2 separate regions of the Homo sapiens genome follow, and region 2 is linked to region 1. The links come from fine-mapping of genetic effects on plasma protein levels. A gene starts in region 1. The other region holds a variant in brackets. All regions are shown on one strand. Distances are between the middles of the regions. Region 1 holds the start of GOLGA3 (golgin A3). Region 2 overlaps GOLGA3 (golgin A3).

Evidence for each region. A credible set is the group of variants that fine-mapping cannot tell apart. PIP is the chance, under the fine-mapping model, that this variant and not a neighbour inherited with it causes the effect. Protein levels are from antibody-based Olink assays in UK Biobank. Linkage for the fine-mapping came from a reference panel and not from the study's own genotypes, which makes the PIPs less certain.
Region 2: its variant is the best candidate, but not a certain one, in a credible set for the plasma level of the GOLGA3 protein (UK Biobank, PIP 0.69). The variant lies in the coding sequence of GOLGA3. If it changes the protein, the assay may bind it differently, which can mimic a change of level.

The regions. Positions count from the first base shown.
Region 1 is chr12:132,823,761-132,832,730 of GRCh38, forward strand. It overlaps GOLGA3 (golgin A3), which reads right to left and starts at 5,109. Exons shown (of 24, transcript NM_001389683.1): 1 at 5,043-5,109. CHFR (checkpoint with forkhead and ring finger domains) reads right to left here. Exons shown (of 18, transcript NM_001161346.2): 18 at 8,596-8,970. It also overlaps the pseudogene RPS11P5. RefSeq lists silencers at 4,387-4,486, 4,987-5,046, 5,417-5,626 and an enhancer at 5,197-5,336.
Region 2 is chr12:132,811,456-132,820,425 of GRCh38, forward strand. GOLGA3 (golgin A3) reads right to left here. Exons shown (of 24, transcript NM_001389683.1): 3 at 5,085-5,357; 4 at 1,852-1,964. Among named protein-coding and RNA genes, the nearest start is that of GOLGA3, 13 kb to the right of the region's middle. The variant C/T (reference allele first, on the strand shown) is at 5,282.

The DNA.
Region 1 (8,970 bases):
TGGGCAACAAGAGTGGAAACTCCGTCTAAAAAAAAAAAAGGGCTGCGTGTGATGGCTCATGCCTGTAATCCCATAACTTTGGGGGGTCAAGGTGGGTGGATCACTTGAGGTCAGAATTTCAAGACCAGCCTGGCCAACAAGGTGAAACCTCGTCTCTACTAAAAATACAAAAATTAGCCAGGCATGGCAGCGCGTGCCTGTAATCCCAGCTACTCAGGAGGCTAAGGCAGGAACATCGCTTGAACCTGGGAGACAGAGGTTGCGTGAGCCAAAATTGTGCCACTGCACTCCAGCCTGGGAGACAAGCACAAAACTCCATCTCAAAAAACAAAAAACAACAAAAAAAAGAGAAGCCCACGTGGCTGGTCCTCGAGAGCATGTGTGTCACTGACCCCGCAGCAGGACGTGCCTGTCTTTCTAGGGGTTTTTACTCTACCTGCCATCTAGACTGGTCACCCGTAAAAGAGGAAACCTATGGGTGGTGGGTGTAACCCAGTCCACTGACACAGTCAATGACTCACTGAAGGGCGTGCAGACCTGTGAGTATCTGCTCATAACTATAATAATCCACCATTCCTCTCTGCCACCTTGCATCCTACAGGCCAGAGACAGTTATGAGTTCATAACAGTGTTGTTCAGAATATTAAAAGGTTACGTATGCTATTAGTGTAAAACTAGCATTAAGGGTTTGTAACCAGAAAGCACTGTGAATAGAAATGTGTCCTAACATTAGTAACTATAAATCTCGCATAGCTAATCAAGAAACTACTGTAAACAAAGGATCCTAGATGTCTTGACTCAGGGTGCCTGGCACATAAAAATATTTAAAGATTAAAGCAATGTCTGAAGCACAGAAGTGAAGGAAGTTACCAAGGCTGGTCAAAAGCTAATCCTGTGTGCAACGAATTCTCAATCTCATGTTTGCGTCTATGATCATCTAGTAACATCTCTCATCCCTGGATTTTCCGGGTGGGTGGGTGATAAATGGGCCTTAGAGCCTAGGCAGGGATCTGAACTACACACCTGTCCTTACACACAGCACAGAACCCTCTGAAAATCACTTTCCAGGAAAAACACTGCGATCTCCACCAAGCCTGCCCCTCAGCTACAATCCCAGACACACTCCAAGAGAACTGGGGGTCAGCCGGCCACGCCCACCTGGGAATGGAGAAGACACCCACAAAACAAGGGGAGGAGCATCAGCAAAATGATGGCTGCTTATCACAGGCTTGCCCCTTTGACAGATGAATTACAAACTGGCACGGAGGACTACACGCGGTGGAATGTGGACTCGACTGCGCCACTGAATACTGGTACCCTGTACATCTGGTCCTCTTGAAAATTTCCTAGCAAAAGAAAACTTGCGTTTTGCTTTGTGATGTCTTTGCTTCTGCCTTGCGGGGGTGGGGTGATTATATGGAACCGACCGTGTGTGCCTACGCGTGCAGACCCTCCTGGCCCCTCAGGTAAAGGAACCGACGGTGTGTGCCTGCGCGTGCAGACCCTCCTGGCCCCGCAGGTAAAGTGTCTCGTCTACCCCCTCTGCCATCACTGTACCTCACGTGGCCTCCACCACAGCACGTCATGTCTGCCATTGCGTGTGTGCCCATTACATGGCGAGATCCTTGAAGACAGAGACTCATTCCCCGTCTGCCTCCCACCACCTTGAACACTCCCAACTCCTAAAGTGCCAACACAGGTTTAATTTGCCGAATTAAATCTTCAGTTCTGCTGATTCTGCTGAGTACATTCCTCTGCTACAAAGCTAATGGTTCCAAAACAAAATGATTAAGTATTTGAATCCTGGAGCATCAACACTGCCTTTTAAAATACAGCAAAGTCTAAACTAGTCCAGCTGAAACATCTGTGAGCTTCAGTTCCAATGAGGGAGTCCAGGGAGTTAGAAACTGGAAGAGCACCTTTTTTCAGTGGCCGGGAAGATGGCGGACATTCAGACTGAGCGTGCCTACCAAAAGCAGCCGACCATCTTTCAAAACAAGAAGAGGGTCCTGCTGGGAGAAACTGGCAAGGAGAAGCTCCTGCGGTACTACAAGAACATTGGTCTGGGCTTCAAGACACCCAAAGAGGCTACTGAGGGCACCTACATTGACAAGAAATGCCCCTTCACTGGTGATGTCTCCATTCGAGGGCGGATCCTCTCTGGCGTGGTGACCAAGATGAAGACGCAGAGGACCACTGTCATCCGCCGAGACTACCTGCACTACATCCGCAAGTACAACCACTTCGAGAAGCACCACAAGAACATGTCTGTACACCTGTTCCCCTGCTTCAGGGACGTCCAGATCGGTGACATCGTCACAGTGGGCGAGTGCCGGCCTTGCCGGCCTCTGAGCAAGACAGTGCACCTCAACGTGCTCCAGGTCACCAAGGCTGCCAGCACCAAGAAGCAGTTCCAGAAGTTCTGAGGCTGGACATCAGCCCGCTCCCCACAATGAAATAAAGTTATTTTCTCATTCTCCAAAAAAAAAAAAAAAAAAGAAACTGGAAGAGCAGCATCACGGCCACGGCCCAGACAGGCACCACCACCTGAACAGAAGGAAGGATGGGATGACCAGCAGGACTGGACTCAGCCATTACAGGTGGAACATGCAGAGGAGAACTGCTGCAGAGGAGAACTGCTGCAGAGGCCCACAGTGACGACGCCTGGGCCTTACACTGACCAAGAAGGAACACAGCCAAAGACGCTCAGGTTCCACCGAGAGGGCACGCCAACATGGTGACAGCCAACCGCACCGAGCTGAGTCCAGTGCAATCACAGATTCTGCTCACTTAATTCCCCTGCTGGTGTCCAAGCAGCCCACCTCTCCAGAACAGAGACCCCATGACGGTGACTGTAAGTCACAAAGACGGCCCCTCTTTACAGGCAGCTCCTCCTGAAGCCGGACCAGAGAGAGAATTCACTAACTGCCTGGAGTTTGGTGACAGTGATACTTCTCCCTGTAGGGCAATAAGCTGGCAGTCTCGGTCGATTCCCAGTCTTGCTTGATTTTTAGTTAAAATTTGGAATGACTCAGTCGTCAGGGCCTCATTACCTCAGACTACTGACAAAAAGCGATCTCCGGGCAGCGAGGAGGAGGAGCAACTGCCAGTGCATCACAGAAAGCTGGTACTACAAACATGGCTCTATTTTAAATAAAGAGGCCAGTCTAATCAGTCTCACTTATGATCACTCGCACTCCTGCGTCTCTAGAGAGAAGAGACAGGACAAAGCTGTCACTTAGAACTGCGAAAGGTACACACAACCCTAGGTTCACAGCTGGGTAACATCAAGGGACTTCATACTGAGAAACCACCACCTCAGGCACCTACAGGACTTTCTGCTTCCCCCACACCTGAATTCTGTATACAAACATTCACGGCTCCATCTACACCACCTCGTTTCACCTGTTCCTATCGGGTATTAGAAACAACAGAGCACAGCCAAAAACCAAACACGATTTCCTCAGGAAAAGAGTACCTGGTGGAGGCCACACTAGTATCCAAAAGTAAACACAGATCTATACACAAAGTGAAAACCAAAAGCAAGCAAGCCTCATGTCACTGCAGAGACGTGAAGGGCAGGCTTGGAAGTCAGGACTCCGGCCTCAGCTCCCGACCCTCCACCACTTACCTGTGAGAGCCTGGGCTAAAGATTTCTTAATCACATTTAGCCTGTTTCCTCACCAGTAAAACAATGAGAAAATGAACGCAAAATTTTGCCAGGATTAAATATAACAAGGCACAGAGTCTGTCCCGTGTCCTCAATAAAATGACAGTAATTATCACGATTTTCCCTTTAGTTGTTGCTTGTCAAAATCGCTAAAAGCCAACTGAAGGCATTCTCACTTGGGAAAGTATGCTACTTCTTAAGGCAATCGGGGGAAAAAAAGCTCCTCTTCAATCTGAGTGATGTCAGATGATTTATTTCCTTCTTGCCATTTAAGGTATACTGCCTGAAAAGATATTAAAGGGTTATAAAGCGCTATGTTGATGTCGTTTAAAAGACAGTTCAAAATAATCCACGACGACGGGTGTGGCTGCTCACACCTGTAACACCAGCACTTTGGGAGGCTGGGGTGGGAGGATCGCTTGAGGCCAGGAGTTCCACACCAGCCTGGGCAATACAGCAACACACCCAGTCTCTTAAAAAAAAAAAAAAAATCCATGAGTCATCTGTAAATGGCTTACACTGGCCCAGTGACAATAAACTCCAACCTCTTAAGAATCCAGCACCTGCCTACACCAACATCCTTACCGCCATCGCTTTCCCCCTTTGCCATTACACTGTGGCCACATCCTCCGCCCTCAGGGTCTTCAAACTTTCTGCCTGAGGCGCGCTTTTCTCACAATTTTGCCTGGCTTGCTTCTCGTCATAGAGGCCTTAGCACGGAAGTCGCCCGCCCCCCAGGCTCCCACTTAGAGTAGCGGACCCCACCCAACCACCGCCCGGTACCCTCTCGCTGGCGACCCTGGGTGTCCCTGTCCTAGGTGGGCTCCGCGGGGGCAGTGACCCAGACCCACAATACCCAGGACCCGCCACACGACTGACATTCGTCGGGTTCATACCCGTGACAACGCCCGGCCCCACTCGCTCTGGCCACCTGGAATGAAGACAAGTCGGCCAGCGACAAAGACAAACAAGGAAGTACACGGACTCCTGAAACCCCGACTTCCCACGAACCACCCGACACCATGTCACGCCTTTCAGCTGCAAAGGGCCAGGCTAAAGCAAGCACTGCCCGAGTGGTGGCAGTGGACAGCTTCGGGACAGGCCGCGCTCGTCGGGCGCAGACAAGCATTCAGGAGGGCTCGCGGGCACCGGCATTTACAGAGCCAGCTCCGCCGCAGCTGAAGGCGGGCGCCCAGGCCCGAGGCCACCGCAGCGAGGCGGGGGTGACTGGAACGGGGCCGTCCCGCCACGCTGCAGGGACGCGCCCAGGCCCCGCCGCCGCCCCTCGAGCCTCCCCCGCCCATGCACTGCGGGAGCGGGAGCGGGAGCGGGAGCCCGAGCCCCGAGGCGCCGCGGCCTCCGAGCCCCTCACCCTGCTGCTCTGGCAGCCCCGGAGGCCGCCCGGCCCGGATGCTCCGGCGGAGACGTGGCCGTGAGAGGGGCGGGGCGAGCGGTGCATCGGCCTCGGGTCCCCGGAAACAGCCTGCACGCGCTACTTTCGTTCCGGAACAGAGAACGTCCTCCTCTTCTTCAAGTGGCCACCCTAGGGCCGGGGACCCTCTGCCCACAGGGTCCGGATCGAGCTCACCTCCGACTGTGATGAGGCCGCCTTCAGAAAGTGACCTTAAGAGTTTGCGGACCTTTCCCTAGTAGAAACGCAACTTCCGGAACTGCAGGACCAACTCTTTCAGGAAGCTGAACCGAGCTTCCGGCGGAAGTGGCGTGGCCGGGGCTCGGCATGGGCGCGGCCGAGCTCGGTGTGGGCGTGACTTCCCCGCCCGCCCTAGTCGGGTCCCCGCCCCAACCCCGCACCTCCACCCGGCCGGCGCCCTTCGCGCTTCAGGTGCCAGATCAAAGGCGACGCTGCTTTGGACCCTATTTGCTTCCCCTTTAAAAAGGGCAAAGCTGGACGGCGCGGGCCGCTGGCCGCTGGGGAACGGCTTTCCACCTTCCCTCATCCGCCAGGCCGCTCTTCCAGCTGTCAGGAAGGAAATGGCCTGGAGGGCGCCTCGGGGTCCTCTGTGATGTTGCGCTCATCTCTGCGGATTTTGGAATACGCTTCAGTCTACGAAGTTTTCTGGGATTTTGATGGGAACTGCTGCAGATCGTTTGGGGAGCACGGGCATCGCTGACTCGGTCCTTCATCTGCGTCCCTGGTGGCCCCTCCATTTATTTCGGTCTTTTGATTTCTTCCACCAGCATTTTGTAATTTCAGCATACAGATTCTGCACCTTTTAAGTTTATAGTATTTCACATCAAACAACTGTAACACTGCGTTTTTGACGTTTTCCACGTGTTCACTGTTGGTCTACACAAATGTGATGAATTCTATGTTGATTTTCTTATCCTGAGACCTCGCTGAACTCATTAGTTTGAGGGTTCATTTGGTGTTTTGCGGTTGTTGTTGTAAAATCCTTGTATTTTTTACATGGGCCATCATGTTATCTGCAAATGCAAATTCTAACACAAAATGATCAGACTGAGGCGTAAAATATACAACTTTTAGAAGAAAACAGAATTTCTCACATCTAGAGCTTGGGGAAGAGTTCTTAGATCTGACCAAAAAAACACAATTCACAAAAGAAGTTGATAGAGTAAACTTCATGAAAAAATTAGAAACTTTTCACCGGATGCGGTGGCTCACGCCTGTAATCCCAACACTTTGGGAGGCCAAGGTGGGCGGATTACCTGAGGTCAGGAGTTTGAGACCAGCCAGGCCAAATGGTGAAACCCATCTCTACTAAAAATATAATAATTAGCCGGGCATGGTGGCATGTGCCTGTAATCCCAGCTACTCAGGAGGCTGGAGGAGAATCGCTTGAATCCAGGAGGCGGAGAGGTTGCAGTGAGCGGAGATCGTGCCACCAGCCTGGGCAACAGAGCAAGACTCCGTCTCAAAAAAAAAAAAAAAAGCCGGGCACAGTGTCTCACGCCTGTAATTCCAGCACCTTGAGAGGCCGAGGCAGGTGGATCACAAGGTCAAGAGATCAAGACTATCCTGGCCAACATGGTGAACCCTGTCTCTATGAAAAATACAAAAAAATTAGCTGGGCGTGGTGGTGTGTGCCTGTAGTCCCAACTACTCGGGAGGCTGAGGCAGGGGGATCACTTGAACCTGGGAGGCAGAGGTTGCAGTGAGCTGAGATCGTGCCACTGCACTCCAGCCTGGGCGACAGAGCGAGACTCCATCTCAAAACAAACAAACCAACCTTGTGAGAAAGACCACATTAAGAGGATGAAAAGATGAGTTACAGACTGTGAGAAAATATTTTCAAACCACGTTTGTTGAAGGACTAGTAGCTAGAATATATAAAGAACTCTCAAAACTTGACAGTAAAAAAAAATACAATTATTCTGGGCACAATGGCTCATGCCTGTAATCTCAGCACTTTGGGAGGCTAAGGGGGCAAATCACTTGAGGCCAGGAGTTTGAGACCAGCCTGGCCAACATGGAGAAACCCTGTCTCTACTAAAAATACAAAAATTAGCCAGGCGTGGTGACGCACACCTGTAATGCCAGCTATTTGGGTGGCTGAGGCACAAGAATTGCTTGAATCTGGGAGGCGGAGGTTGCAGTGAGCTGAGATTGTGTCACTGCACTCCAACCTGGGTGACAAAATGAGACTCCATCTCAAAAAAAAAAAAACCATACACACACACAAACAGAAGACAAGCAAAAAACATGAAAACACATTTCACTAAAAGGATATATGAGTGGCAAATAAGCTTGTGACCAGGTTCAGCATCACTAGCCATTACAGAAATGCACATTAAGACTATCTTGAGGTCAGGCGCGGTGGCTCAAGCCTGTAATTCCAGCACTTTGAGAGGCCGAAGCAGGTGGATCACCTGAGGTCAGGAGTTCGAGACCAGCCTGACTAACATGGTGAAATCCTGCTTCTACTAAAAATACAAAAATTAGCTGGGCATGGTGGCAGGTACCTGTAATACCAACTACTTGGGAGGCTGAGGCAGGAGAATCGCTTGAACCTGGGAGGTGGAGGCTGCAGTGAGCTGGGATCACACCATTGCACTCCAGCCTGGGTGACACAGTCAGACTCTGTCTCAAAAAAAAAAAAAAAAAAAGACTGCCTTGGGATATTAGTATACACCTATTAGAACAGCTGAAATAATATACAGCAGTGGCAATATGAAATGCTGGGAATAATGTATTCTGGAGTAACTAATCTCTTATACATTGCTGATGGGAACAGCAATAGTGCACCCACTCTGGAATATAGTTGGGCAGTTTCTTCAAAAAGTAAACAATTTTATGACCCAGCAACTGCATTCCTAGACATTGAACTCAGAGAAATAAACTTATGTCTACACAAAAGCCTGTACATTACTGACCCCAAACTGGAAACAACCAAAATGTCCTCTGACATGGTGAAACAAACCATGGACCCCCCACGCCACTCTGACATGGTGAAACAAACCGTGGACCACCCACGCCACTCTGACGTGGCAAAACAAACTGTGGACCACCCACGCCACTCTGACGTGGTGAAACAAACCATGGACCACCCATGCCACTCTGACGTGGTGAAACAAACCGTGGACCACCCATGCCATGGACACTACTCAGCAATAAAAAGGAGCTGACCACTGATGTGTGCAATAACTTGGACGAAGCTCCAAGGCATTACATCCAGGGAGGAAAACATCTCCGAAGGTCTACACTGCATGAACTGTACGATGTGTCCACTTATGTCACAAAATGACAGCATTATAGAGTGGTGGTGGGGTTCGGATGACTAAAAAGGGGTAGATGGAGAGAGATTTTTGTGGTGATGGAACTGTTCTGTATTTTGTGACCGTGGTTACGTGAATGTCCTCATGTGATAAAATGACAGAATGAAGAAAACACTCCACCAAGCTCAGTTTCCTGATTTTCATATTGCACTATCCTAAGGTGTAGCCAATGGGAGAAATAGGGAAAACATTTAATTAGCATAAGATCTAGTATTCCATAGCACAGGAGGGTGAATATAGTTAATAATAATGTATTGTATATTTTTAAATAACAAAAAGAGTGGAACTGGAATGTTCCTAACAAAGAAATGATACAGGCTTGAGGTGATGGATACCCCAGTTACTGGGAGTTGATCATTATACATTGTATGTCTGTATTAAAATATCAAGGTACTCCATAAATATATACACCTTTTATGTACCCACAGTAATTTAAAATTTTAAAAATTTAGCAAGCAAAATGTGACAAACATTAAATTTAAATACAGTTAGAAACAATGAATCTAATCATATACTAAGTTGATGGCACAGTGTGGGAAAAATGC
Region 2 (8,970 bases), 12 kb before region 1:
TCTTCATTTTTCATACTTGCATTTTTATTTTTTTTTTGAGATGGACCCAGGCTGGAGTGCAGTGGTGCAATCTTGGCTCACTGCAACCTCTGCCGCCTGGGTTCAAGCGATTCTCCTGTCTCAGCCTCCTGAGTAGCTAGGATTACAGGGGTGTGCCATCACATCCGGCTAATTTTTTGTATTTTTAGTAGAGACGGGGTTTCTCCACGTTGGCCAGGCTGGTCTCAAACTCCTGACCTCAAGCAATCCGCCCGCCCCACCCTCCCATAGTGCTGGGATTATAGGTGTGAGCCACTGCACCCAGCCAGATTAAAGTATTTAAAAACATAACCTTAAAGGTATAAGAAGAACACGCTGGTCATTTTATTGATCTTCTTCTACTGAAGAGATCCTTTTGAAACATGACATAGGCTGGGCGCGATGGTGGGTGCCTGTAGTCCCAGCTACTCAGGAGGCTGAGGCAGAGAATCACTGGAACCTGGGAGGTGGAGGTTGCAGTGAACCGAGATCGCTCCAGCCTGGGCAACAGAGTGAGACTCCGTCTCTCAAAAAAAAAAAAAAAAAAAAACATTAAAAAAAAAAAGTAGCCGGGCATGGTGGCACGTGCTTTTAATCCCAGTTACTCGGGAGGCTGAGGCTGGAGAATTGCTTGAACTAGGGAGACGGAGGTTGCAGTGGGCCAAGACTGCACCACTACACACCTGCTTGGGTGACAAAGCGAGATTCTGTCTCAAAATACACACACACACACACACACATATATATATATATATATTTTTTTTAACTGCTCATTGACAATACGCCAGATCACCTAAGAGCTCTGATGGGAGATGTACAAGGAGGTGAATGTCGCTTTCCTGCCTGCAGACACAACATCCCTTCTGCAGCCCATGGATCAAGGACTAGTTTTGACTTTCAAGTCTTATTACTTAAGAAATACCTTCTGTAAGGGTACAACTGCCATAGTCATAGTGATTCCTCTCATGGATCTGGGCAAAGTAAACTGAAAACCTTCTGGAAAGGATTCACCATTCTAGATGCCATTAAAAACATTCATGATTCATGGGTGGAGGGGTCAAAATATCAACATTAACAGGAGTGTGGAAGAAGCTGATTTCTACCCTCACGGACAGCGTTGAGGGATTCAGTGCTTCCGTGGAGAACTTGACTGCAGATGTGGTGGAAACAGCAAGGGCACTAGAACTAGAAGTGGAGCCTGAAGATGTGACTGAATTGCTGCAATCTCAGGATAAAACCTGAATGGGTAAAATGCCATCAAATAGCACCGCATGTTACAGAGACATCTTTTCTAAGATATGGTAAACTTTAGTGCGGTTTTAAGAAATTACCACAGCCCAACCTTCAGCAACCACCACCCTGATGAGTCAGCAGCCATCAAACTTGAGGCAAGATGCTCCAACAGCAAAGAGATTACGACTTGCTGAAGGCTCAGATGATCGTTAGCATTTTTTAGTAATAAAGCATTTTCAAATTAATGTGGGTACATCAGTTTTATTTAGACACAGTGCTACTGCACACTTAGTAAACTACAGTAGCGTATACACATAACTTCTTTATGCACTAGGAAACCAAAAACATTGTAGGACTTGCTTTATTGCAATGTTTACATTTTTGTGGTGGTCCAGAACTGAACCCACAGTACCTCTGAGGTCACCCGTGTTTGCTTTCTTTGCTTTTCAATTGGCAGATTTAGAAATAAAATGTGCTTGTTGCCCCTGAGCCCATGGCAGCTCAGAGAAGCCAATGGCAGGTCCCCGGGTTATGTGGGACCAACAGTTGTCTCTGGCACAGGAAGCTTTCCATGAGCTTGTTCGGGAGAGGGAGACTCACCCTCTCCTGCTGGCGCTTCACCCTGTACTGTTTGAGCTGCTCTTCCAGCCACTTCCGAGCCTGAAGTCGGACCTGCTCCTCCTTCTCCAGGGGCAGGGGAGAATCTGTAGAGCCTGCAGTGGGAAAAGGGCAATTTGGAAACTCATAAAATACCAGGATGCAGAACAATCAGGCACAAGAACTTGGTCATTTTGTACTTAATTACCCATATACTTTACACCTAAACAATGCACAGCCATCTTGTTTGGAAGGACAATTTCTAGATCAAGAGAGAACTGTGAGCCCCGGACACGGACCACAGGCGGGATCTACCTCACAGGAGACACAGTGGCCAGGCACTGGGTCTGTGATCCCATGATGAGTACACCCCACCTGGGGCATTCCCCTGGTAAAACAGGAAATGGCAGCAAGTGCCTTTTTTTTTTTTTTTTTTTTTGAGATGGAGTCTCACTCTGTCGCCCAGAATGGAGTGCAGTGGCATGATCTCGGCTCACAGCAACCTCCGCCTCCCAGGTTCACACCATTCTCCTGCCTCAGCCTCCCAAGTAGCTGGGAATACAGGCGCCCGCCACCACGCCTGGCTAATTTTTTGTATTTTTAGTAGAGACGGGGTTTCACCATGTTAGTCAGGATGGTCTCGATCTCCTGACCTCATGATCCACCCGCCTCGGCCTCCCAAAGTGCTGGGATTACAGGCGTGAGCCACCGCGCCCGGCCTTTTTTTTTTTTTTTTTTGAGACGGAGTTTCATTCTTGTTGCCCAGGCTGGAGTGCAATGGTGCGATCTCGGCTCACCACAACCTCTGCCTCCTGGGTTCAAGCGATTCTCCTGCCACAGCCTCCTGAGTAGGTGGGATTACAGGCATGCAACACGACCCCTGACGACTTTGGTATTTTTAGTAGAGACAGGGTTTCTCCATGTTGGTCAGGCTGGTCTCGAACTCCCGACCTGAGGTGATCCGCCCACCTCGGCCTCTCAAAGTGCTGAGATTATGGGCCTGAGCCACCGTGCCCGGCAGCAAGTGCCTTTTAACAACAGAAAGAACTGGGTTCAAAGCTGGAGCCGTGCCGAGCACTCTGAGGCAGGCTCAGCTCTCACCACGCTGCAACTTGCCCTGGCTTCACAGCAGGTTCTCGTGACCCCGCTGGGAGAACCTGAAACGCCGGCACCGTGGAGTTACAGGCAGTACCCAGCCACAGGAGCTCAGCCGTCGTGGGGTCACGAGACCCCGAGTGCATTTCTTTGCTCAGTTACATTTGGGGTCCGCTCTGACGCACAGCTCATCTCAGCTCCTGCAGTAACAAGTCACATTACGATAAGGCTCTGGCGGTACTCAAATGGCTGAAGCCTGGCGCCAGGCCTCACTGCAGGGTAAATGCTGCACAGGCTCCGCCCTCCAGGGCTGGGGGCGGGTTACCTCAGTTTCCAGACAGACAAGACTCCAATCCGAGGTCATGCTCCGGGACAGGAGGGGAAAATTTACAACTTTTTAGCCAAAACCAGAATTTAAAATATCTAAAACCCAGACCTTTCATTGTAGGTGATGAAAGAGTTGCATGGTACGTGCCAACGTGTTATAGTTACAAACCCAGGGCTCCACTTCCCAGGACTGAGTGTGTGGCCTCATCCTTCCTAAGCCATCAGCAGACACCGCCCGACGGCCTGGGTGCCGACCAGAGTAGGAAAGCATAATCACACAGCAACGCTTTACACATGACACCCTCCTTACAGGTAGATGCTGAGGAGATGAGCAGCTACTGTCCTAAATAATCCCTAACATCTGAGCAGTCACCAAGAATTTCACTGTAAATGTACCATTATTAGTTTATACATTTTATCACTGAAAAGATCTCTAGTCCTTTTCACATGGCAAAGTGGTCCAGATGGCTAGACCGTAAGTGGCAAATTCAGGCCTATGGCCACCAGGCAGATATTTATATAAGTCGGCAAAATAAGCAGGGTTTCAACCAAACACTGACGCAGGAGATAGGCTCAGGGCCAGGCGCCAGCAGGAACAGGTGACCAGGGGCATCCCGCAAAGGTGTGCACGTAGACCCAGCGCTGCTGCCCCAGACACCTGGGCCAGAGCTCACACATCTGTAACTTCAGGACCCCAAAGTAAATAAACTAAGTTGAAAAAAATCAGGAATCTAGACTTTTTTACATGCTACTTCTCAACTTAAATGCTGGCAGTGAGTTTTCAGAATTGTTTCAAATAAACACATGTGAAATGCAGTCTGATTTCAGTAATTTAGGGTTTTTTGTTGTTGTTATTTAGTTTTAAGAAATTTTTAAAAATATACTGCAGGCCAGGTACAGTGGCTCACGCCTATAATCCCAGTATTTTGGGAGGCCAAGGTATGACGATCACTTGAGCCCAGGAGTTCAAGACCAGCCTGGGAAACATGGTGAGACCCCGTTTCTACACACACAAAAAATTAAAATTAGCCAGGTGTGGTGACACGCACCTGTGGTCCAAGCTACTTGACAGCAGAGGCAGGAAGATCCCTTGAACCTGGGAGGCAGAGGCTGCAGTGAGCTCTGACTCTGCCACTGGCCTCCAGCCTGGGCGACAGAGCAAGATCCTGACTCTAATTAAAAAACAAAACAGGCTGGGCCTGGTGGCTCACGCCTGTAATCCCAACACTTTGGGAGGCCAAGGCAGGCAGACCATGAGGTCAGGAGATCAATACCATCTTGACTAACACGGTGAAACCCCATCTTTGCTAAAAATACAAAAAATTAGCCGGGCCTGGTGGCGGGTGCATGTAGTCCCAGCTACTCGGGAGGCCGAGGCAGGTGAATGGCATGAACCCAGGAGGCGGAGATTGCAGTGAGCCGAGACAGCGCCACTGCAGTCCGGCCTGGGCGAAAGAGCGAGACTCTGTCTCAGAAAAAAAAAGCAAACCAAAAAAAACCAAAACAACAGACTGGATGCCCACCGTCTGCTTACCAAGCACCTGGGTGACACAGGACATGCAGGCTGGCCTTTAACGCAAAAGCGTCAGCACTGCTGCCAGTCAGACCACAGCAGAACCTTGACTCCACCTGCATCTTCACTCTCTAACTTGAAGCTCTCCTTGCTAAACTCACAGCCCCACGTGGGACTCAGATGGCACACGGCAGGCACAGGCACACAACAGCTCAGACAGTGAGTGCGCAGGGCACCTGCTCCCAAGGGGCTGAGCGACGCGGACGTGGAGGGTGGGAAAAGCGGGGTAACGGATGCTTACACAGTTGCGTTTCTTGCATAGGAAGACTGAGTCTGAGAGACTGCAAAGCTTCTTTTCTAACACTGCCCTCAGCACTAGTTCCCTGAGACTTCCTTAGGTTGTCATGGAAACCAGCCACACCTGGAGAGGCATCAGGGCCCACTGGGCTTGTGGTGGGATCGAGAGACGACGGAGGGTCTGGGAAGGGTGGCGTTGGC[C/T]CGTTCTGACAGAGGCCTCCCTGGCCAGGTCCATCCGGGCTTTCCCCTTCCGTGGATGCTCTGTTTACCTCGGCACCTGGAAAGACAGAGCACGCTGGACCACCATGGCTTTAACAACAAGGTGACGTCGCTTTTCAGACATGCAGCTGGAGTAGGAGAGAAGAGGATCCAGACTCATGAGCACGGCACTTTCTCATCCCACAAAGGCTTCACTCTGAGAGGAGCAGCCCATGGGCCCCGTCCCACAGGCGGGGTGGCCAGGATAAGGCCCACAGCCCCTCTGGTGTCCACGTCCTTCCTGTAAGGTGAACCTGCCCTCCACACCTCCACACTCTAACGTGAACCCGCCCTCCACACCTCTACGCTCTAACGTGAACTCACCCTCCACACCTCCACACTCTAATGTGAACCCGCCCTCCACTCCTCCACGCTCTAAGGTGAACCCGCCCTCCACACCTCCACGCTCTAAGGTGAACCCGCCCTCCACACCTCCACGCTCTAAGGTGAACCCCCCCTCCACACCTCCACACTCTAACGTGAACCCGCCCTCCACTCCTCCACGCTCTAAGGTGAACCCGCCCTCCACACCTCCACGCTCTAAGGTGAACCCGCCCTCCACACCTCCACACTCTAAGGTGAACCCGCCCTCCACACCTCCACACTCTAACGTGAACCCGCCCTCCACTCCTCCACGCTCTAAGGTGAACCCGCCCTCCACACCTCCACGCTCTAAGGTGAACCCGCCCTCCACTCCTCCACGCTCTAAGGTGAACCCGCACTCCACACCTCCACGCTCTAAGGTGAACCCACCCTCCACACCTCCACACTCTAACGTGAACCCGCCCTCCACTCCTCCACGCTCTAAGGTGAACTCACCCTCCACACCTCCACGCTCTAAGGTGAACCCCCCCCCCACACCTCCACACTCTAAGGTGAACTCACCCTCCACTCCTCCACGCTCTAAGGTGAACCCGCCCTCCACACCTCCACGCTCTAAGGTGAACCCACCCTCCACACCTCCACGCTCTAAGGTGAACCCGCCCTCCACTCCTCCACGCTCTAAGGTGAACCCGCACTCCACACCTCCACACTCTAACGTGAACCCGCCCTCCACTCCTCCACGCTCTAAGGTGAACTCACCCTCCACACCTCCACGCTCTAAGGTGAACCCCCCCCCCACACCTCCACACTCTAAGGTGAACTCACCCTCCACTCCTCCACGCTCTAAGGTGAACCCCCCCCCACACCTCCACACTCTAAGGTGAACTCACCCTCCACTCCTCCACGCTCTAAGGTGAACCCACCCTCCACACCTGTACGCTCTAACGTGAACCCGCCCTCCACACCTCCACGCTCTAAGGTGAACCCCCCCTCCACTCCTCCATGCTCTAAGGTGAACCCACCCTCCACTCCTCCATGCTCTAAGGTGAACTCGCCCTCCACACCTCTACACTATAAGGTGAACTCACCCTCCACACCTCCACACTCTTGGCTGTAGAATTTATGTAGTAACGACAGTAACATTTCCTCTTCTCTTTTTTGAGACGGAGTCTCATTCTGCTGCCCAGGCTGGAGTTCAGTCACACAAGCTCAGCTCACTGCAAGCTCCACTCACCAGATTCAAGCGATTCTCCTGCTTCAGCCTCCCCAGTAGCTGGGATTACAGGTGCCCACCACCACACCTGGCTAATTTTTGGTCTTTTTAGTAGAGATGGGGTTTCACCATGTTGGCCAGTCTGGTCTCAAACTCCTCCCCATTCACCAGCCTCGGCCTCCCACAGTGCTGGGATTACAGGCGTGAGCCACCGCACCCAGCCAATGTTTCCTTTCCATTTAAGTAAAACCAATAAGAAATCTTATGAAAGTCGCCAGTTTAAAACAAGCGAAAACCACAAACACTTAAAACACAGCTGACAATCTTTCTAGCAGGCACTGGTAACAGCAGTGTTAATCAGAGTCACAGCCTCACATTTACAAAGGCTGATTTTGGAGTCATTTCAAAGCCTCAGCTTATCCTCCAAGGCGAGGACCCTAAGGCGAAGAGGTGGATGATGTCATCACACCACCCGTGAAGCAGAGACAGCCCAGAACCGCGCTTCTGCTTGATGACAGCCTGCTGGGTAAAGGCCTGGGTTGGACCAGTGACAATTCTATACCCACGTGTTACCTCAGTTCACCCACTAAAATGATTATATACAAATTACCCACAACACAAACTAAAACATATTTCCTCATCAAATGGAACAAAGAAAGATTTCTTTCAATGAAGTGATTTTCAGTCTTTTCCCTGCCCCCTAACTGCTGACTGGTGGGTGGGCCAGTTCACAGTCAAAGAACCAAGACATGTGAGGGGGGAGGGAGGGTCCTCAGGGGGTTCTGGTCCTGGTTCCGGTGGCTCTGGAGGCCCGGCAACACCTCCGTGTCTCACAGGGGTCAGCATTCCTCGGATCCCACGTGCATGCAGGACAGCAAATTTGCTTTTTGCTCAAGCAAATTAAAAATGAGTTTCTTAGCCGGGCGCGGTGGCTCACGCCTGTAATCCCAGCACTTTGGGAAGCTGAGGCAGGTGGATCACGAGGTCAGGAGATCGAGACTATCCTGGCTAACACGGCGAAACCCCGTCTCTACTAAAAATACAAAGACTTAGCTGGGCGTGGTGGCGGGCGCCTATAGTCCCAGCTACTTGGGAGGCTGAGGCAGAAGAATGGCGTGAACCCTCGAAGTGGAGCTTGCAGTAAGCTGAGGTCGTGCCACTGCACTCCAGTCTGGGCAACAGAGCGAGACTCCGTCTCAAAAAAAGAAAAGGTTTCTTTCACTTGCAAATGTGAGTTCAAACTAACAGCAGATACTTACTGTCATGCCTCCCGAAAGAAAAACCAGAATAAAAGCAGGGGTGCCAGACAGGAAGCCAGACCACGGGCACCCGACCAACGCACTGAGACGCCTTTCATGCAAAGGACCCGTGAGCTCCACTGCTGGGAGAGGGGGAACCTTGCATTTCAGATAAAAGTTACTGGGTTAGGCCGGGCGCAGTGGCTCACACCTGTAATCCCAGCACTTTGGGAGGCCGAGGTGGAAGGATAACTCAAGGCCAGGAATTCAAGACCAGCCCGGGCAACAGCAAGACTGTTTATACAAAAAGTTTTTAAAATGAGCCAGGCAACAGGGCGCGGTGGCTCACGCCTGCAATCCCAGCACTTTGGGAGGCCAAGGTGGGGGGATCACCAGAGATTGGGAGTTCAAAACCAGCCTGATCAACATGGAAACTCCATCTCTACTAAAAATACAAAATTAGCTGGGCGTGGTGGCACATGCCTGTAATCCCAGCTACTCAGGAGGCTGAGGCAGAAGATCGCTTGAACCCGGGAGGCGGAGGTTGCCATGAGCCGAGATCGCACCATTGCACTACAGCCTGGACAACAACAGCAAAACTCCGTCTCAAAAAAAAAAAAATCAGCTAGGCGTGCTGACACGCATCGATAGTCACCGCTACCCCAGAGACCAAGGCAGGAGGATCACTTAAGCCCAGGAGTTCATGGCTGCCGTGAGCTATGATTACACCACTGCACTTCAGCCTGCTCAATGGAGCAACACCCTGACTCTAAAAACAGTAATAAAATGTTTAAAATAGAAAAAGGGGCGGAGGCTGAGATTAACCCAGCGTCTTGCTCGAGGGCACATTGCTCCTG